Homo sapiens: one gene and its partners. The protein of the gene in region 3 interacts with the protein of the main gene of each other region in a pairwise test. Each region holds a gene or a part of one and is shown on either strand. Other genes may lie near its edges.

What was found. The genes of interacting proteins can lie anywhere in the genome.
Region 1: the proteins of SCAPER (region 3) and GFAP interact in binary tests that used the Homo sapiens proteins (3 or more experiments, as listed by UniProt).
Region 2: the proteins of SCAPER (region 3) and BAG6 interact in binary tests that used the Homo sapiens proteins (3 or more experiments, as listed by UniProt).

Annotation. Positions count from the first base shown.
Region 1 is NC_000017.11:44,905,490-44,912,525, reverse strand, and holds part of GFAP (glial fibrillary acidic protein), read left to right. Parts: intron 1-728; coding exon 729-854; intron 855-1,069; coding exon 1,070-1,290; intron 1,291-1,867; coding exon 1,868-1,911; coding exon of another isoform or gene 1,912-2,057; exon of another isoform or gene 2,058-2,265; coding exon of another isoform or gene 2,266-2,390; exon of another isoform or gene 2,391-2,854; intron 2,855-4,376; coding exon 4,377-4,462; intron 4,463-5,137; coding exon 5,138-5,179; 3' UTR 5,180-7,036.
Region 2 is NC_000006.12:31,642,651-31,649,686, forward strand, and holds part of BAG6 (large proline-rich protein BAG6), read right to left. Parts: intron 6,978-7,036; coding exon 6,860-6,977; intron 6,746-6,859; coding exon 6,549-6,745; intron 6,315-6,548; coding exon 6,261-6,314; intron 6,102-6,260; coding exon 6,027-6,101; intron 5,177-6,026; coding exon 4,941-5,176; intron 3,874-4,940; coding exon 3,744-3,873; intron 2,955-3,743; coding exon 2,757-2,954; intron 2,549-2,756; coding exon 2,296-2,548; intron 1,980-2,295; coding exon of another isoform or gene 1,953-1,979; coding exon 1,875-1,952; intron 1,765-1,874; coding exon 1,657-1,764; intron 1,545-1,656; coding exon 1,432-1,544; intron 1,328-1,431; coding exon 1,240-1,327; intron 466-1,239; coding exon 179-465; intron 1-178. UniProt on the Homo sapiens protein: ATP-independent molecular chaperone preventing the aggregation of misfolded and hydrophobic patches-containing proteins.
Region 3 is NC_000015.10:76,762,341-76,769,376, reverse strand, and holds part of SCAPER (S phase cyclin A-associated protein in the endoplasmic reticulum), read left to right. Parts: intron 1-2,288; coding exon 2,289-2,459; intron 2,460-3,738; coding exon 3,739-3,814; intron 3,815-3,922; coding exon 3,923-4,040; intron 4,041-4,304; coding exon 4,305-4,416; intron 4,417-7,036. UniProt on the Homo sapiens protein: CCNA2/CDK2 regulatory protein that transiently maintains CCNA2 in the cytoplasm.

The sequences.
Region 1 (7,036 bases), on a different chromosome or scaffold from region 3:
TGAGTGGCAGAAGCCACTGGTGTCTGAGCAGGGTGAGGGCCCGATGGGGCTGGGAGGACCTCCCTGCAGGCAGGGGAGAAAGGGCTATTAGAACCCAGGGTGAGGCCAGGCGAGGTGGCTCACACCTGTAATCCCAGCACTTTGGGAGGCCGAGGCATGCGGATCACCTGAGGTCAGCAGTTCAAGACTAGCCTGGTCAACATGGTGAAACCCCGTCTCTACTAAAAATACAAAATCAGCCGGGTGTAGTGGCGCATGCCTGTAATCCCAGCTACTCAGGTGGCTGGGGCAGGAGAATTGCTTGAACCTGGGAGGCAGAGGTTGCAGTGACCCGGGATTGTGCCACTGACTTCCAACCTGGGCGACAAGAGCAAGACTCTGTCTCAAAATAAAACAAAAAAAACAAAAAAACAAAAACACACAAAACACCCAGGCCTCCGCTCGCCTAAGACGACAGCGTTCAGTCCCGCAGATGCAGCTGTCAGTGTGGAAGGTTCTGGATTCTGTGGCACTGTTCATTCATTCGCTTGCTGACCAGGTGTTGTGCTAGGTGCTGAGGTCTGGCAGCCCGCTACCCTGCCCGCATCCATGGGTCACAGTTGTTGGGAAAAGTCCCAGCCAGGGCCAACGTCCTGGGGTTAACTGGGGTGCTGCTCACCTCCCTGATTTCCCAGAGCCCGTGCCTGCCCATGGGCCCACACAGCCCCCCATATGTGTCCCCCACCTAGTTTGCAGACCTGACAGACGCTGCTGCCCGCAACGCGGAGCTGCTCCGCCAGGCCAAGCACGAAGCCAACGACTACCGGCGCCAGTTGCAGTCCTTGACCTGCGACCTGGAGTCTCTGCGCGGCACGGTGAGCGCGGCCAGGGCAGGACGGGGACGGGCGGAGCAGGGACGGCCACCCCAGGAGATGCCAGGGGAGAAGGGCCAGGGACGAGGACCTGGGTCGAGGGCGGGGCCTGAACGTTACCCCCGGGCTAGAGGCGGGGCCTGGGGCCGGGGGCCGGGCCTCGAAACCTCCCCAAGTCGGGTCGGGGCTCCGCGGGACCGGCCGGCTCCATCCCACAGAACGAGTCCCTGGAGAGGCAGATGCGCGAGCAGGAGGAGCGGCACGTGCGGGAGGCGGCCAGTTATCAGGAGGCGCTGGCGCGGCTGGAGGAAGAGGGGCAGAGCCTCAAGGACGAGATGGCCCGCCACTTGCAGGAGTACCAGGACCTGCTCAATGTCAAGCTGGCCCTGGACATCGAGATCGCCACCTACAGGAAGCTGCTAGAGGGCGAGGAGAACCGGTGAGCCCTCATCACAGCCCCTGGGGAAGTCTCCCTGCTGCCTCACGGTAGAGCTCATCTTGCTCCCTTCAGGGACTGAGTCTTTTTCAGCCTTGTGTGCAGATCCCTTCCCACCTCAATGCCCAGCACAGTGCCTGCCTCACACATAGCAGGCAGTCACTAGATGTTTGATGACTGAATGGATGGATGGATTCAACCAATATTGATTAGGCCTCAAGGCCAAGGACTTGGGTCACCCTCCAAACTAAGAGGCATACTCCCCATCTTCCCAGCCAAGATTGGACTCCTCACCTCACCCATCTCTTCTGCCTCCTTGGAACTTTCTTCACCACTTTCCCCTCCCTTTTCCATCTTCCTTCAGATAGACATGCGCCCCTCCCAGATAACACTCAAGCCCCTTGCAGACGTTTGGAACTCCAGATAGCACGTTGGCTGCTGGGGAAAAAGCTAGGAGATGGAGTTAGACTTTCCTGGCAAGGAAAAGGGCGTTCAAGTTGTCATGATGGCCCCGCACCAAGACCCAGCCTAGGGGTGTCCCAGGCAGCCCGGGCAGCCCTCTCCCTCTGCTTTCTTTCAGGATCACCATTCCCGTGCAGACCTTCTCCAACCTGCAGATTCGAGGTCAGTACAGCAGGGCCTCGTGGGAAGGGCACTGGAGTCCTGCCCCCTCCTCCAGGGCCTGTAGGTTGCTCCAGACTGGGACTGAGGATCAGGGCAAAGGGATCCAGCTCTCCCTGGGGGCCTTCGTGACACTGCAGCGCTCCTAGCCAGAGCCTATCATACCAGGGTACTTCTAGGTGGGGCTTGCAGCTGCCCCTGTCCTGCTAGGCCCTGGTCCCTCTTCCCCTCCCTGCACCCCATTCGACAGCAGAACTGGGTGAGAGCTTGACATCTGCCCTGTCTGCAGATCCCTGAGCAAGCACTGCCCTTCTGAGTGTTTTCTGTTTTTGTTTTTTTAACTGCTTGTCACTACAGGGGGCAAAAGCACCAAAGACGGGGAAAATCACAAGGTCACAAGATATCTCAAAAGCCTCACAATACGAGTTATACCAATACAGGCTCACCAGATTGTAAATGGAACGCCGCCGGCTCGCGGTTAGCTGCCTGCCTCTCAGACACGGCGCTTTGCCCAGCTTGACAGGGAGTGAGCCTCACCCACCCCATCCTCCCAATCCCCCTGAGTTCCCTCTTCCCAGGCTTCCCCTAAAGGGCCTGGACTGCGTCATTTTCCCAGGAACTGCAGTGCCCAGCCCAGGACGTGGTACAGAGTAACTGTACATTAAACTGGCAGAGCTTGTTAGTGGTAAAGGTGGTGAGTCCTTGGGTGCGCAGTGGAGCTGCTCTGGGGCCTCTGAGCAAGCAGCAGCCTCTGTCTCACCTCTTCCTGTCACTGGGAGGGCCCCTTGGGTCTCGCTGTGCCTGGACGCCAGGCTCTCTGCTTTATTCTTTCATCCCTGAGGCTCCATCGCTCAGCTCAGTGCTGACTCAGTTCAGAGGATTCTTCCCTCAGGACCGCAGCTCTTGCAGTGAATAAAGTTTTATGTTCCCTGCTCTTAATGTTAAATATTAGTGAATGTGACGTGTTATATTTTTCTCTCTCGGGCGGGGCGGGGGGAGGGGGGAGCTAAATTACTTTTTACTTGCATTGGCCCTGAAATGATTCTTAGCTAAGGAACAAAATTCCTCTTCTTCTGGACTAGAATATTTAGGACCACTAGATATGCATGTCTCAGGACTTAATTCAGCATCAGAAAGGCTAACCAGGCTGACTAGTAGAGGTAATACTGCCAAATCCTAGATAGTCACAGGTCACTAAAGCACAGATAAATGGCAGAGAGAAGTAGGAAAGAGGAAAGGGGACAGGAAAGGGACCTATGTGTATTGAGCACTAATATGTGCCACATGTTTAACAGCCTTTATTTTAGTTAATTGTCTCCTCTCTCCCACCTAGAGAAGTAGGCCCCATCATCCTTATTTTACAGATGAGGAAACTGAGGCTGGGAGAGGTCAATTAACTTGCCCAGAGTCATGTGGCTGGTTGGTGGCTAAGTTGGGACTTCTTGAGCTCTGGTCTCCTGATCCTTCCTTCCTTCCTTCCTTCTTTTCTTCCTTCCTTCCTTCTTTCCTTCCTTCCTTCGGCAGAGCGTCCCTCTGTCACTCAGGCTGGAATGCAGTAGTGCAATCTTGGCTCACTGCAACCTCCACCTCCCAGGTTCAAGCAATTCTCGTGCCTCAGACTCCCGAGTAAGGGGATTACAGGTGCGAGCCACCACACCTGGCTAATCTTTCTTTTTCTTTCTTTCTTTCTTTCTTCCTTCCTTCCTTCCTTCCTTCCTTTCTCTTTCCTGCTTGCTTGCTTGCTTGCTTGCCTGCTTTCGACGGAGTCTTACTCTGTTGCTCAGGCTGGAGTGCAGTGGCACGATCGCAGCTTACTGCAACCTCCGCCTCCCAGGTTCAAGTGATTCTCCTCTCTCAGCCTCCTGAGTAGCTGGGACTACAGGCACCTGTCACCATGCCTGACTAATTTTTGTATTTTTAGTAGAGACAGGGTTTCACCATATTAGTCAGGCTGGTCTCAAACTCCTGACCTCAGGCGATCCACCTGCCTCGGCCTCCCAAAGTGCTGGGATTACAGGTGTGAGCCACCATGCCTGGCCTATTTTTTGTATTTTTAGTAGAGGTTTCACTATGTTGGCCAGGCTGGTCTCGAACTCCTGGCGTCAGGTGATCCACCTGCCTCAGCCTCCCAAAATGATGGCATTATAGGTGTGAGCCACCGCACCCCTCCTGGTCTCCTGATTTCAATACCGTGCTGGGTTTTCAGAAAGCCAGGTGCCAGGCCAGGGCTTGCAGAGGGGCTGAAATGAAGCCAGGCCAGAAGACAGAGCAGCCAGGACTCTGGCAGCAGCACTATTGGGATTTGGGGGCTCTCCAGCCCGTTTGGAAGAGCCTAGGCTCTCTCTGCTCGGTTGCATAGGTTCTCATACTCATGATGGGGAGGGGGGTGCGATGGGGAAGCCGGGCATGGGAGAGGATGGCTCATGCCCTGAAAGTCCATGAGAGGCCTCCTCTCCCCACATCTGCAGAAACCAGCCTGGACACCAAGTCTGTGTCAGAAGGCCACCTCAAGAGGAACATCGTGGTGAAGACCGTGGAGATGCGGGATGGAGAGGTAAGGAGGGATTTGGGCCCAGTCAGGCTCTGGCTGGCCCCAGGGATTCTCAAGGCCAGGCCATGGAGGAAAGCCTGGGGCTGGCACATAGAAGGTTCCCAGCAACTCCCAGTAGCTCCCCAGGGAATTCTGGAGGAGAGCAAGGAAACTGAATGTAATTCCGTTTCCTCAGTCCCTCCATAGGCTGTTCTAAGGGGAGCCTTGGTACCAAAGCCACTAGATGGGATCCTAATACACACTCTCTCTTTCTCACCCTCAAACTCGGGGGCCTTGCTTGCCAGGGAGAGAAAGAGAATTAAAGTTAGTAGCTTTCACTTCCAACTCTAGCAGACACAGTTGGGGATGGGGAGGGCTTTCCATTTCCAGCTTGGTAAAAGGAAACTACCAGGGGAATGGGAAGAGGGGATTTGGCGTATCCGCCACGCCACTCCAACCACAGTGGGAGCTCATCTTACTCCAGCAGCTTACCACTCGCCAGGCATGACGCTAAATGCTTTCCCAGTGTTATCTCACCACCCCCTCTGTCCACCACGCAAGGCAGCTGTGGTTACTATCAAGAAAAGTAAGACCTGGGAAGTCGGGGACTTCCCAAGGTTACACAGCCTCGTGGTGGTGGACCTGGGGTCTGTGTGAACTCCTAACTGTTGCACTGTGCACGTTCCCTGTCCCCTGCAGGTCATTAAGGAGTCCAAGCAGGAGCACAAGGATGTGATGTGAGGCAGGACCCACCTGGTGGCCTCTGCCCCGTCTCATGAGGGGCCCGAGCAGAAGCAGGATAGTTGCTCCGCCTCTGCTGGCACATTTCCCCAGACCTGAGCTCCCCACCACCCCAGCTGCTCCCCTCCCTCCTCTGTCCCTAGGTCAGCTTGCTGCCCTAGGCTCCGTCAGTATCAGGCCTGCCAGACGGCACCCACCCAGCACCCAGCAACTCCAACTAACAAGAAACTCACCCCCAAGGGGCAGTCTGGAGGGGCATGGCCAGCAGCTTGCGTTAGAATGAGGAGGAAGGAGAGAAGGGGAGGAGGGCGGGGGGCACCTACTACATCGCCCTCCACATCCCTGATTCCTGTTGTTATGGAAACTGTTGCCAGAGATGGAGGTTCTCTCGGAGTATCTGGGAACTGTGCCTTTGAGTTTCCTCAGGCTGCTGGAGGAAAACTGAGACTCAGACAGGAAAGGGAAGGCCCCACAGACAAGGTAGCCCTGGCCAGAGGCTTGTTTTGTCTTTTGGTTTTTATGAGGTGGGATATCCCTATGCTGCCTAGGCTGACCTTGAACTCCTGGGCTCAAGCAGTCTACCCACCTCAGCCTCCTGTGTAGCTGGGATTATAGATTGGAGCCACCATGCCCAGCTCAGAGGGTTGTTCTCCTAGACTGACCCTGATCAGTCTAAGATGGGTGGGGACGTCCTGCCACCTGGGGCAGTCACCTGCCCAGATCCCAGAAGGACCTCCTGAGCGATGACTCAAGTGTCTCAGTCCACCTGAGCTGCCATCCAGGGATGCCATCTGTGGGCACGCTGTGGGCAGGTGGGAGCTTGATTCTCAGCACTTGGGGGATCTGTTGTGTACGTGGAGAGGGATGAGGTGCTGGGAGGGATAGAGGGGGGCTGCCTGGCCCCCAGCTGTGGGTACAGAGAGGTCAAGCCCAGGAGGACTGCCCCGTGCAGACTGGAGGGGACGCTGGTAGAGATGGAGGAGGAGGCAATTGGGATGGCGCTAGGCATACAAGTAGGGGTTGTGGGTGACCAGTTGCACTTGGCCTCTGGATTGTGGGAATTAAGGAAGTGACTCATCCTCTTGAAGATGCTGAAACAGGAGAGAAAGGGGATGTATCCATGGGGGCAGGGCATGACTTTGTCCCATTTCTAAAGGCCTCTTCCTTGCTGTGTCATACCAGGCCGCCCCAGCCTCTGAGCCCCTGGGACTGCTGCTTCTTAACCCCAGTAAGCCACTGCCACACGTCTGACCCTCTCCACCCCATAGTGACCGGCTGCTTTTCCCTAAGCCAAGGGCCTCTTGCGGTCCCTTCTTACTCACACACAAAATGTACCCAGTATTCTAGGTAGTGCCCTATTTTACAATTGTAAAACTGAGGCACGAGCAAAGTGAAGACACTGGCTCATATTCCTGCAGCCTGGAGGCCGGGTGCTCAGGGCTGACACGTCCACCCCAGTGCACCCACTCTGCTTTGACTGAGCAGACTGGTGAGCAGACTGGTGGGATCTGTGCCCAGAGATGGGACTGGGAGGGCCCACTTCAGGGTTCTCCTCTCCCCTCTAAGGCCGAAGAAGGGTCCTTCCCTCTCCCCAAGACTTGGTGTCCTTTCCCTCCACTCCTTCCTGCCACCTGCTGCTGCTGCTGCTGCTAATCTTCAGGGCACTGCTGCTGCCTTTAGTCGCTGAGGAAAAATAAAGACAAATGCTGCGCCCTTCCCCAGAGTGGACTCTGATCTGTTCATGAGAGGGCGGGACTGGGGCCAAGATGTAGCCTTTGACAAGACCAACTCATTTCTTATTACTGATCATCTCTGGGGCCCATGCCCTCACCAAATTCCACCCGCAGCCAAAGAGGA
Region 2 (7,036 bases), on a different chromosome or scaffold from region 3:
AACCTCATTTTCTTCATCTTTAAAATGAAAGGTTCAGAGTCAATGAATTCCCAGGGCCCCTTCCCCTAACATGTCACTAGGGGCTCTTACCCAGTGGTTATATAATGGCAAGAAGGTACCACTGCCTGGCTGGGCCGGGGGACAGGAAGATGAGGTGAATGGCAAGCCAGCCACTCACCTGCAAGAAGTCAGTCATGCCTTGGAGAAAGGCAGGGACACCAGGCATCGCCACAGTGATGGTGGGAGAAGCCACACCAGACCCTCCAGCCCCTGGCCCTGCAGGCCCTAGCAGGTTCCCCAGAAGCTGAGAGAACTGAAGATCAGCCATGGAGGGTTGAGGGGTGGGTGGAGGCTGGGCAGGCCCCCCAGGAGCGGGGCCAGCTGTGGTAGCTGTGTTGGTGGTGCCAGCACTGGCAGAAGCAGTGGCAGGGGCTGGCGGTGGAGCCATACCTGGGGTCCCCTGAGCTGTAAGAAACCAAAAAAAGAAAGCTGGGCTGAGCATGGTGGCTCTTGGCTGTAATCCTAGCAACTTTGGGAGGCCAAGGCATGAGAACTGCTTGAGCCCAGGAGTCTAGGCCACATAGCAAGACCCCATCTCTACCAGAAAAAAAAAAAGACAATTACTAGCCAGGAGCTAGTACTGCTAGCTACTCAGGAGGCTGAGGTGGGAGAACTGTTTGAGCCCAGGAGTTCAAGGTTACAGTGAGCTTTAACTCACTGGATTGCACCATTGCACTCCAGTCTGGGTGACAGAGCAAGACTCTGTAACTTAAAAAAAAAAGAAAAAAGCTGGCCGGGCACGATGGCTCAAGCCTGTAATCCCAGCACTTTGGGAGGCCAAGGTGGGTGGATCACAAGGTCAAGAGTTCGAGACCATCCTGGCCAACATGGTGAAACCCCCTTCTCTACTAAAAACATAAAAAATTAGCTGGGCGTGGTGGCGTGCACCTGTAGTCCCAGCTACTCAGGAGGCTGAGGCAGGAGAATCACTTGAACCCGGGAGGCAGAGGTTGCAGTGAGCCAAGATTGTACACTGCACTCCAGCCTAGCAACAGAGTGAGACTCCATCTCAAAAAAAAAAAAAAAAAAAAAAAAAGCTGAAACCTGAAGACACAAGACACTACAGCAGCCCCATTCCAGGAAAGCAGGAACCAAGAAAATATGGAAAGAACTGGAAAGTGCCAGTGAGCAGACTAGGAAAGGAGTTTAAACTCTGAGTGGGGAAGAATGAAAACTCACCCACAAGGACTGGCTGCATAAGAAGCTGCCCCACAAGGCCGCTCACCATCTGGGCCAACGAGGCATTGGTACCCAGACCGGCGCCCTGCTGGATAGAGAGCAAGGGAGAATTTCAGACCTGCCCTTCCATGCACCACCACAGGAGTCTCTCCCTAGACTGTTACGCACTAGAACTCCCCGACCCTTGCTCACCAGTGTCCCAGAGACTGGGGGCCCTCCAGGATGGGAAGGCCGAGCCTGTGGAGGAGTGGGCCGGGCAATCACCACCCGGGTTGGAGCTGTTGGGAAGCCTGGCACCTGCTGTCCTGTGGGTGGCAGAAGAGACAGACCGAAGAGGGCTGAGGGCCAGGCCCTTGCCAGCCAGCTGCCACCATGGACTGTGCCCTACCTCCCAAGCCTCCCCTTCCAGGTCATTACCTGCGGCCGCGGAGGCAACAGCTGCCACCATGGCCTGATGAGTGATCTGGTGGGCGACGGCGTGCATGAACTCAGGGGGCAGGGAGGGCAGCTGGATGAGGGTGGAGCCTGGGGGGCGGGTCTGATGTAACCTTGAACCTGGACCCCTTCAACCCACCCACTCAGCCCTTCCCTTTCTCTACCCAGAGCTCAGCCTGCCCTGATGCCCTCACTCTTACCCAGGGTTTGGCCATGACCAGGGGGTCCCAGGGGGCCAGTGGGAGCACTCGGAACACCACCAGGCTGTGTGCCAGAATCTGGGCAGGGAGACAGAGACAGTGGCCCTGAGGTAGGTAGGGCCAAGGCCTAACTATATCCTTCTGAGATCAGGCATACTTCAGGCCCATAATCCCCCAATCAGAAAGCCTGCCTTTCCCTCCATCTAAACAGGGAGAGGTACTCCCTTCACCACACAAACACACCTCCAAAGACAAACCAACCCCCACACCCCCCACATCTGTCTACTTAAGCTTCTGCTCTGGTCCCCAGGCTACCACCACCAGCATGTGCCTCTCCCTTCCCCACCCTGTTCCCTCACACCTCAGCATGAACCTCCCTCATCATGCTGATCCTGCTCTTCTCGCCAGCAACTATTCTCACCTTGAATGTTCATGTGCATCATGACCACGGGTTCCACACTCTGGTGGGAAATCCGGATGACCCTCGGGTGGCTGGTGGCTGGCGGGGGAGCTGGACCTGGCGGGGGAGCCCCCTCAGCTGAGGACTCGACATTGGTAGAAGACGGAGCCACGGATGAGGCCTGCCCAGGACCAGGGGGAGGTGCCTCTGCATTGGGAGTTGGGGGGGGCCGAGTCCCATTTCCTGTCATGGTCACAGTGGTTCCCACATTGATCTGAAAAAGACAGATGGACAGGCAGATGTGAGAAAAATACAAGAGCCTAACCAAGAAAACCTCATGATAAACCTCTAAAGTATCTCCAGCCTTCATCACCATGTTTCCAGTCTCCTCCTTTCCTAACCTCCTTCAGGCCCAGTAGCTACCCTGGGTCACTCTATCAACACCCCTCACTCTCCCTCAGGCCAGACTCCCCCTAACCCACCTGTATGGGAATGGCTGCCTGCTGGAGCACCATGGGGGTGGTGTAGTGAGACATAGGCCGGACCACATGCAGGTGTCGTGGGGGCGTGCAGGCCAGATTGCAGCGCAGGTCAGACAGTGCAACAAAGGTGTTGCCCAGCAGTCGCAGGCTCTCCCCTACCAAGTTGATCAACCGCTGATCCTCCTCCCGGCCCTCGTGCTGCGCACAACCAGCCAAACACAAAAAGGCAGAAAATATCAAGCTGGAGTCCATCTCACTAATAAAAGCAATAATGCCTACTGAGAATACCATGTCCTCCAAAACTTTCAGTTATATCCTTGGAAGTTTACATGTAGACCAAATCTTTGCAAATAAATTATATCTTATTCACATAAGGAACATCCTATTAAAACACTACTATGAATCAGTAAGTCATCATATACTGATCTCCTGTACTTTACATTTTCTAAATTCATTCAGGGGCACAAGGGGTACGATACGAGGACAGTGCTTACAGCAAAGATTATCACCTTCTCTGTAAGGGAGGACAAAATCACTTACAGGTTTAGAGAGAAATTGTTTTGTTGCAATGTGTGTTTTTTTGTTTTGTTTTGTTTTTTGAGACAGTCTCGCTCTGTCACCCAGGCTAGAGTGCAGTAGTGCAATCTCGGCTCACTGCAACCCCCTCCTCCCGAGTTCTAGCGATTCTCCTGCCTCAGCCTCCTGAGTAGCTGGGATTACAGGTGTGCACCACTACATCCAGCTAATGTTTATATTTTCAGTAGAGATGGGGTTGCACCATGTTGGCCAGGCTGGTCTCAAACTCCCAATCTCAGATGATCCGCCCACCTTGGCCTCCCAAAGTGCTGGGATTACAGGCGTGAGCCACTGCACCTGGCCCTGTTGCAATGTTTTTCCAGGGAGGGAAAGAGTTATCTGCATTTCAGCCTGTTCTGTTTTGGGAGTACTGGGGCTGAGGAGAAAGGGCAGGGCCATCAAAGGGCTCACATTGTTATTGTAGTCCGTGGTGGCAGCAGCACCCAGAACCTCGTAGTAGCGCTGCAAGAAGGGCTGGAGGCGACTCTCCAGCCGCTGTAGCTCCTGGAGCACCTCGACATACTCCGCAGGGGAAGGATGGCTGTGGACAAACCCAAGGGGCAATGAGCCAAAGCCTTCCTCAGATTCCCACCCTCACAGTCAACAGGGACCACATGTGCCCTCTTTCTCCCTGGTCTCCCAGAGCCCTGGCCCAATCCTTCTCTGGACCAGCAGAGCTTCTATTCTCTTCAACCTCCGCCTCCCAGGTTCAAACGATTCTCCTGCCTCTGCCTCCCAAGTAGCTGGGATTAAGTTGCCTGCCACCACACCCGGCTAATTTTTGTTTTTTTTTTTTTTTTTTTTTTTTTGAGACAGAGTCTCGCTCTATCACCCAGGCTGGAGTGCAGTGGTGCGACCTCAGCTCACTGCAAGCTCCGTCTCCTGGGTTCACACCATTCTCCTGACTCAGCCTCCCGAGTAGCTGGGACTACAGGTGCCCGCCACCATGCCCAGCTAATTTTTTGTATTTTTAGTAGAGACGGGGTTTCATCATGTTAGCCAGGATAGTCTCGATCTCTTGACCTCATGATCCACCCGCCTCGGCCTCCCAAAGTGCTGGGATTACAGGCGTGAGCCACTGTGCCCGGCCTGTATTTTTTAGTAGAGACAGGGTTTCACCATGTTGGCCAGGCTGGTCTCGAACTCCTGACCTCAGGTGATCTGCCCGCCTCTGCCTCCCAAAGTGCTGAGATTACAGGCATGAGCCACTGCACCCAGCCAAAGCTTCTATTCTTTACTCCCACCCATGAGAGGATAGGGAGAAGAAAATGAACTGCTCCCACCCTCCCCACCACAATCCTGCACCTACAATGGTGAAAGACTAATTCTAAGAAAGAGAGCAGGCCTTCGTGAACTCAGAGGAGAATTCCGATCAGGCTCAGGAGATACCATTTGGATTTCCTTGCCGTAGGGAGAGCAGCAGTTCTTCTCAGCTGCCTGTCCTAGCGTCATTTACCTATACCGAGAGAGCCCCTCCTCGCCCCTCAATGCTAACCCTTCAACTAAGACCTCCAAGTAATCCTTTCCCTCCCTTGCCATGGTTCATTTCCTTCTCCCCATACTTCACTTAGGATTCCCCACCCACTAAAGATTCCCTCCATCTCTCACTTGGGTGCATTTGTTTCCGGGGCAGGTGTTGGGCCCGCTGGGGCTGGGCCAGGAGTGAGCTCCGGGTTCTGGGCTGGGGCACGCTCCTCCACTTCTTCTGCCTCCATGGGCTCCCGGGGAGGTGCTTCACTTTCAACTGGTTCTGATGTTTGAGAGCTCAAGGCTACTGGCTCCGGGGTCACAGCCGGTGGCTGCGGGGGCGGCTGACTGTGCTGCGGTTGGGGCCCTCCTCGACACTGAAGGTAGGGGAGAGTCAGGATACCAAAGGCAGGGTAAGACTGCTGCAGAGGATTACTCTACAGGAGACTGAACAGAGAAAGTATCCTAACTAGACTCCCTGAAGGCATGGCTCTGCAATTTTATCTCCGACTCGCTAGCAACTAGCATAAGACTGACACAAATTAGATGCATAATAAGCATCTGTAATTTTTTTTTTTTTTTTTGAGACAGAGTCTCGCTCTGTTGCCCAGGCTGGAGTGCAGTGGCATGATCTCAGCTCACTGTAACCTCCGCCTCCCAGGTTCAAGAAATTCTCTTGCCTCAGCCTTCTAAGTAGCCAGGCCTACAGGCGCGTGCCACCACACCCAACTAATTTTTGTACTTGTAGTAGAGACAGGGTTTCACCATGTTGGCCAGGCTGGATTGGAACTCCTGACCACACGTTATCCCCCTGCCATGGCGACCCAAAGTGCTGGGATTACAGGCAGGAGCCACCACACCCGGCCACAGCATCTGTAATATTTGTAAATAAATTTCTAACAAAGAGTAGAGATTGTGGTTTCCTTTCCTCCACAAGTTGGTTTCCCAGCCTCCACAAGTTAAGAGAGTAGAATCCTTTAATTGAAAAGAGATGCCATGAGACTAAGTCTGAAACAAACTCCCCAGATACCAGGCACCAAGAGGATTGGCAGAAATGAGAGAGCCTCACAAAGATACTTTTTCTGCCCAAAAGAATGAATACTGCAGAGAAGACTAGATTATGAAGGCCAAACCCTGTGGATGTGGCCAGTGAAGCCCTAACTCCCAGGCTGAGAGAAAAGGGAGAGGGAGGGTGGAGAGAGACCCTAGCCAGCCTTGCCCACTTACCTCCATCCGGGATAGTAAGGTCTGTATATCCCTGATCATGTGCTGAGCCATCACCAGCCGTACCCGGGGCTCACTCTACAATGAGAGAAGGTTTATCAGGGTAGGTTACAGATGAAGCCATGAGTTCTACCACCTACTAAATCAGGTCCCAGCCATCTCTCAGCCAGGTCCACCCCACCTCCCAGCCTCCTTCTCCCAGATCCCCTTCCCTGACCCTCGGAGGCCCCTCAATACCTGAATCGGGGCCTGTTCCATGTTGATGTGAACATCCACAGCAGAGCCGTCACTCTGGGGAAAGGGTAAGGGAAGTTGTTCTGGGAGAAGCCAACACTAAGGCCTCCACACCTCCAATTCATTCCCTGGAGCCCTACCTCCTTTTCTCCTTAAAGACTGAGACCAATAGCACACCACAGGGCCCCCTGAACCCAATCTAAAGATGGAAGCATCTATCTTATTAATTCCCTGGTGCTACCACAACCAAAGCTACCCACAAAAGCCCTCCCCTGTGGAACATAAGCTTACAGGAAGATTGAAGGTTCCAACCATGACATAGCTGTTGGCATTCCGGTCATGAACAGAGGCCCCAGGCCCCCGAGTACCAGGGGGGGATCCCCCACCATGAGTGGCTGAGGCAGACCCCGTCCCAGAAGATGCCCCAGAAGGGAGGTGAGTCTGAGGAGGAGCCCGTTCCACCAGGTGGATAACCTTTCCCCCAACATCTGCAGAAAAATAGACACACACCAAAACATAGTATGAACAGGTAAACCCATGGCCTCAGTTCATCCCTCCAGACAGTAGCCCCAACCTCTGAACTGCCTCCCCAGCCCCCTTACTGTATTCCTGAAGCTTCTTATCATCTTGCAGAACTCGTCCCTGGTAAATGAGCCGTTGTTTTTCAGATGGGATGCTGACAGAGGCAGCAATGTGCTCCTTAAACTCTTTTACATTCATCTGAAAAGAAGAGGCATGCACAGGAATGGAAAGAATGGAGGAAAGAGGAAGAACAAAGA
Region 3 (7,036 bases):
CCACCTCCCAGGTTCACGCCATTCTCCTGCCTCAGCCTCCCGAGTAGCTGGGACTACAGGCGCTTGCCACCACGCCTGGCTAATTTTTTGTATTTTTTAGTAGAAACGGGGTTTCACCATGTTAGCCAGGCTGGTCTCGATATCCTGACCTCGTGATCCACCCGCCTCGGCCTCCCAAAGTGCTGGGATACAGGTGTGAGCCACCACGCCTGGCCAGGTTGTTTGTTTTTTTCTTGTAAATTTGTTTAAGTTCTTTATAGATTCTGGATATTAACCCTTTGTCAGATGGGTAGATTGCAAAAATTTTCTCCATTCTGTAGGTTGCCTGTTCACTCTGATGATAGTTTTATATAAATTGAATTGTGTAAGCTTTGCTTGACTTCTTTCACTCAACATATTTATTTTGAGATTTATCCATGTAACACAATGTTTGTTCATTCACTTGCCCAAAGACATTTGAATTACATCTTTCTTTAATGAATAAAGATGCCACGAACGTTTTTGTGTACAACTTTATGTGAACATGTATATATATATTTTTTTTTTTTTTTGAGAAAATACCTAGATCAATTTTGTTGATAGTATTGTTCAGGTCTTCTATATCCTTGCTAGTTTTTTGGTTACTTTTTCTGTCAGTTGAAAGAGGGGTACTGAAATCACTGACTGTAACTGTGGATCTATTTCTTTTCTAACGACTGTATTGAGATCATAATTTACGTATAATACAATCCATCTGTTTGAAGTTTACTGTTGTTTTTTAGTATATTCTCCATAATCAGCTTTAGCACTCTTTCATCACTCTAAAAAGAAAACCCAGTGCCCATTAGCAGTTACTCCCTTTCACTCCTCCCACACCTGCCACTGCACTGCTTTCTCTCTATATAATTTTGCCTATTTTAGACATTTCATAGAAATGAAATGCAATATGTGGTCATTTGTGACTGACTTCTTAGCATATTTTAGAGGTTCATTCATGTCTTAGTTTGTCTCAGTACTTTGTTCTTTTTTGTGATCAAATAGTATAGTCCACTGAATGAATGAATATACCACATTTTATTTATTCATCAGTTGATGGACATTTAGGTTGTTTCCACTGTGCTATTATGAATAGCACTGCTTTAAGTATTTGCATAACAGTTTTTGTGTGGGCACATTTTTTATTTCTCCTGGATATATATCTAGGAGTGGAATTGTTGGGTTATATGAACTCTATGTTTAACCATTTGAGCAACTGTCAGACTGCTTTCCAAAGTGGTTGCATCATTTTACATTCTCATTAGGTTTATATTTTTTTGCATTTCTATAGGTTTTTGCCTTATATATTTTGAAGTTCTGTTAGGTCTATAAACATTTAGGACTGTTTTGTCGTCTTGATGAATTGACCCTTTTATTATTATAAATTGGTCTTCTTTATTCCTGGTGATATTTTTTGCACTGAAATCTGTGTCTGATGTTAATACTTCAGCTTTCTTTTAATTAGCATAGACCTTTTACTTGTAATCTGTTTTTTTCCTTCTAGGAAACATATAGCTCAGTCTTATTTTTTATCCAGTTTGATAATCTCTGCCTATTACATGTTAACATTTACATGTAATATAATTATTGACATAGTTTGTTTAAATCCACCATTTTACTATTTGTTTTCTCTGACTTGTGTTCTTCCTTCCATTTTTAATTTTTTAATAATTTCATTTTATCACCTTTGATGGCTTATTAACCACATGTTTGTTTTGTTATTTCAGTGTTTGATTTAGGGTTTCTAGTATACATCTTTAGCTTCTCATGAGGATTTATTAATTAATGAATCTCATGTATATTTTTATTATTTGCAGTGCATTTTTTAAAGTTAGGTGTATGTATGTTCAGAAAGCATCATCACCAGTACAGCATATATTCTTTCCATGTTCCCATTATAGTATACTATTTCGGTTTTATATTTAATGAGTATATTCAATCTATAATTGTTTTGAATTTTGGCACTCAAATGAAATTCACACTACCTGTTATTTATATAATTTCACAGTTTCTCATACGTAGCTGTCTGGTAAATAAGGCAAGTCATTGATTATTGTTCCATTTTATGGAATACCAAGTAGGTTCTTGGTTTTTAGAAGCTTCTAAGGCACACAGCTAGTAAGTGGATGAGCCTGTATGGAACCCCAGCTTTTATGATTCTAGATCAATACAATTTTATGTATACTGTTGAGTTCATGTTAGAACATAAAAAATGATTACTTTCCAGTCAAGTGATCATTTTTCTTTTTGTTTATGTGTTTTTAACTTTATAGTCCATGGCAGAAGTCCTTGCTAAAAAAGAAGAGCTAGCAGATCGTCTAGAAAAGGCCAATGAAGAAGCCATTGCTAGTGCTATTGCTGAAGAAGAACAGTTAACTAGAGAAATTGAAGCTGAAGAAAACAATGATATTAACATTGAAACTGACAACGACAGTGATTTTTCTGTGAGCTTTTAGACTTTTTAACATAACTATTCAAAATTTATATTTAGAAACAAAATTATCTGGGCCAGAAAGACTTGGAGTCCATCTAGTCCTATTTAGAATTATTTATTTAAAAATCATGTTCAGTAATCATAACTATTATTCTCAGGGTGATTTAGACTTACACAATAAACAATAGCAAATCTTTTGTTAGCACTTTACCATTACTATTTTCATGTATGATACAGTTGACAAGTTAGAAGTTGTTATTGTTATTTTACCAGTCAAGAAATTGAGTCTGGGCCGGTTGTGGTGCCACATGCCTGTAATCCCAGCACTTTGGGAGGCCAAGGCGGTAGGATTGGTCAAGGATAGGAGTTCGAGACCAGCCTGGGCAACATAGCAAAACCCCGTCTCTATTAAAAAAAAGTTAAAAAATTGAGTCTGACATAAAGTAAGAACTCCACATTACTGAGATTATAATTTATAGAAAGTGAAGATGAAGCTAAGGTATTTTACTTTTGTATTCTATTAACAAAAAGTAGGCTGGGTGTGGTGGCTCATGCCTGTAATCCTAGCACTTTGGGAGGCCGAATCAGGTGGATCACAAGGTGAGGAGTTCGAGACCAGCCTGGCCAATATGATGAAACCCCATCTCTACTAAAAATACAAAAATTAGCTGGGCGTGGTGGCAGGTGCCTGTAGTCCCAGCTACTTGGGAGGCTGAGGCAGGAGAATAGTTTGAACCCGGGAGGCGGAGGTTGCAGTGAGCTGAGATCGTGCCACTGCACTCCAGCCTGGGCGACAGAGTGAGACTCCATCTTAAAAATAAATAAATAAATAAATAAATAAATAAATGAGCAAATGATACACTACCTTCTGTTACTAAGTGCTTAGGATATATATGTTAATGATGGGAATTTGTTAAAGAATAAAATAACTTTAAATGTTTTACATATTGGTTTATTAAATTTTAATGCCAAACAATCTTCAATTCTTCAATATTTGCTTTTTATATGTTAGCATTTATGTAGTAATAGGATAAGGCCAATATATTTCTTAAATTTACTTCATTTGTCTCTGCTGTTAATGGCTGCTAGGCTCTTAAAATGAATAGGCTGTAGTATTTTAACTTGGCAATTATTTTGATTGTACTGGTAGGTACCTTTTTCCTGGTTTTCAACTGTTGGTTAAATAGAATATATTAACAATAGGTAGGACATTTTCATGTATAGTTCATTTTCTAAAGTTGTAATTGTGTTCAAAGATTTGATTTTCAACTTCCCTTATTACATTTTAGGCCAGCATGGGCAGTGGGAGTGTTTCTTTCTGTGGTATGTCCATGGACTGGAACGATGTCCTTGCAGATTATGAAGGTATTGTGTATATGCATATTGGGTGTGTAGTACAGTGTTCAAAAGTTTGTTCTCAAATGTTTTATAGACCTATGTGGCTAAACAATAATAGTATTTTTTTCTGAACAGCTCGTGAGTCTTGGCGCCAAAATACATCCTGGGGGGACATTGTAGAAGAAGAACCTGCTAGACCTCCAGGGCATGGAATTCACATGCATGAAAAACTTTCTTCACCCTCTCGTAAAAGGTCTGGCATTTGAAAATTAATTTGAAATGGTTCACAGCAAGGAAACTAGCCACTCTTGACTGTTAAATAAAATTGCTACGTGGCATTTTTGGACACATTACTTCAGGACAGTTTCAGATCCATTGAAAAGTAACAAAGCTTTCCCGAAATGTTGGGCCAAAATTAGTTTTGTATACTTTAAGAACTATGAAGTCTAAAGAACACTTTTTCTGGCCTTATCATGTAAACATTTCATGTCTCTTGTCCATTTGTTTGTATTAATAGAACAATTGCAGAATCTAAGAAGAAACATGAAGAAAAACAAATGAAAGCACAGCAGCTAAGGGAAAAGTTACGCGAAGAGAAAACATTGAAGCTTCAGAAATTGTTAGAAAGGGTGAGTTTTTATTTTTTAGGAAATTATGATAGTCTGAAGTTGCTGGGCTTATTTTCAACTCTACTTCTGGTCTGAGAGAAGCTAAAATAACCATAAAAATAATTAGATTTGCTAGGAAATAAAAGCATTTTAATCTATTGAATCCAAGAAGGTTAACTATTAAAAAATCGTCATTTTCAAATTATCTAGTAAATTGATATTTTGCAGGGTTTGCGTGGATTATTAAAGCTCTACTTTTGCCGTTTTCATTGGAGGGTTTCCTTGGGGAGGTTTGTCTAAAGTGTAGAATGACCTGGTAGGACAATTTGGAGCCTAAGACTATCAGTTTGTAGTGTGTTTGCCCATGGCCAGCCCTGGTCCTTGCTCTTGGCTCTGGTTTTTACTTCTGTTTATGTATCTGCAGCCAACTCCTTCAGCTAGAGGAATGCAAGCTACTGCCCTGTCCCACAGTTGTTGTCAATCCATGTCCATATGCAGTGGGCCAAATAGCCATGCACACACATGGCCACAGCTGGCCATGGCCCCCATTGCCACATGTATGCCTGCAACCAAACTCCACCTGGCCTCTGCCACGACCTGCCTTGGCTCCCACCTACCAGGGATGCTCACTTCTTAACACAGAGGTGCTGCTGGCAGCCACTGCCTACACCCTGTAGCTTTTGGAGCTGAGGACTGCCCTGTTACTGATATTGCCAACTCTAGCTCCCTGAGCTGCCACGCCAATGCATACATATAAACCAAGAGTTGTTGTACTTCCCCGCACTTTGGCACTCTGTGTGCCAGTAGGCTTAGTGCAACAGTATGCTCCTGCATTCCCCACAAGTCATTGCTCCCATCTGAGCAATTGACTATCCTTTCTGAAGCCAGTCCATAAAGACTGGAGAAGGTGACTGCTTCTTTAAGTGCATAGACAGCAATGCAAGGATACAAAGAACATGAAAAATCAGGAAAACTTGATACCACCAAGAGAACACAATAAATATCCAGCAAGCAACCCAAACAAATGAAGATCCATGAAGTCCCTGACAAAATATTCAAAATAACTGTTGAAGGTCAGTGAACGGTGAGAGAACACAGATAAATAATGTAACAAAATCAGGAAAACAACATAAAAACAAAATGAGAACATCAAGAAAGTGAAGCCGTGAGAAAGAACCAAACAAATTCTAGAGGTGAAGAATACACTGAAGAAACTAGAAAATGCAGTAGAGAGCTTCAGCAACAGACTCAGTGAAGCAGAAGAAAGAATCAAGAGAACTTGAAAACAGGTCATTTGGAATTACCCAGTAAGAGGAGAGAAAAGAATGAAAAAAATGAAGGAAGCCTCTGGGATTTATGGGACACTGTCATTGAATGAATATATGCATTATAGGGATTGAAGAGAAGCAGGCAGAAAGCCTTTTTTTTTTTAAAGAAATAACCCAAAACTTCCTAAATATGGAGAACAAAACAGATATCCAGACTCAAGCTCATAGAACCCCACAACAGTTAAAGAAGTCTACATCAAGACTTATTATAATTAAATTGTCAAAACTCAAGAGACAGAATTTTGAAAGCTGCAAGAGAAAGGCAACTCATCTCATACAAGGGAAACCTGCCCCCCCACCACCCCCCACCCCAGAAATGATCAGTGAATTTCTCAACATGAATCTTCCAGGCTAGGAGATAATGGGATGTTACATTCAAAGTACTGAAAGAAAAAAACAAAACCCTGCCAGCCATGATTACTATACCCTGGAAAGCTATCCTTAAAAATGGAAAGGAGATAAAGTCTTTCCCAGACACATGAAAATTGAGGGAGTTTGTCATCACTAGGCTTGCCTGAGAAGAAATGCTAATGGAGTTCTTTAAATGGAATAGAAAAAATGATAAACACCAATGTAAAAGCGTATGAAGGAAAGTATGTAAAGCTCAGGAGTAAATGTACAGTCAAATATAGAATAACATAATACTGTAAGGGTGGTACAGAAATAACTGGTAACCCCAATATAAAACTTTAAAGAAGGCTGTGTGTGGTGACTCACACTTGTAATCCCAGTACTTTAGGAGGCTGAGGTGGGAGGATCACATGAGGCCAGGTGTCTCACACCAGCCTGGACGACATAGCAAGACTTTATCTCTACAAAAATAAGGAACAACAAAAAAATTATCAGTTATGGTGGTAGGCACCTGTAGTCCCAGCTACCTGGGAGGCTGATGCAGAAGGATCGCTTGAACCTGGGAGTTTGAGGCTGCAGTGAGCTAGGATTGCACCATTGCACTGCAGCCTGGGAAATAGAGCCGCATCCTGTTACTAAGGTAGAGTGGGGGAGGGGACTTAAAAGACAAAAAGGTATTAAGGGTAAGTATAATGACAAAAAATTGATAATGGATTCACTGTATGAAAAATAGTAAACTCTGACTTCAAAAACACATAGTGTAATGGTAGGTAAAAGTGCAGAGTTTTGTAGGCCATTGAATTTAAATTAAATTCAAATTAAATTAAAGTAGACATCAAATTAAAGTAGACAGTTGTAACCACAAGGGCAAACCTATTGTAAATACACAAATGCTAAAGAGAAATCAAACCAAACCATTAGAAAAAAAAAAAAAAGCCCACAATCAAATAACAAATGAAGAT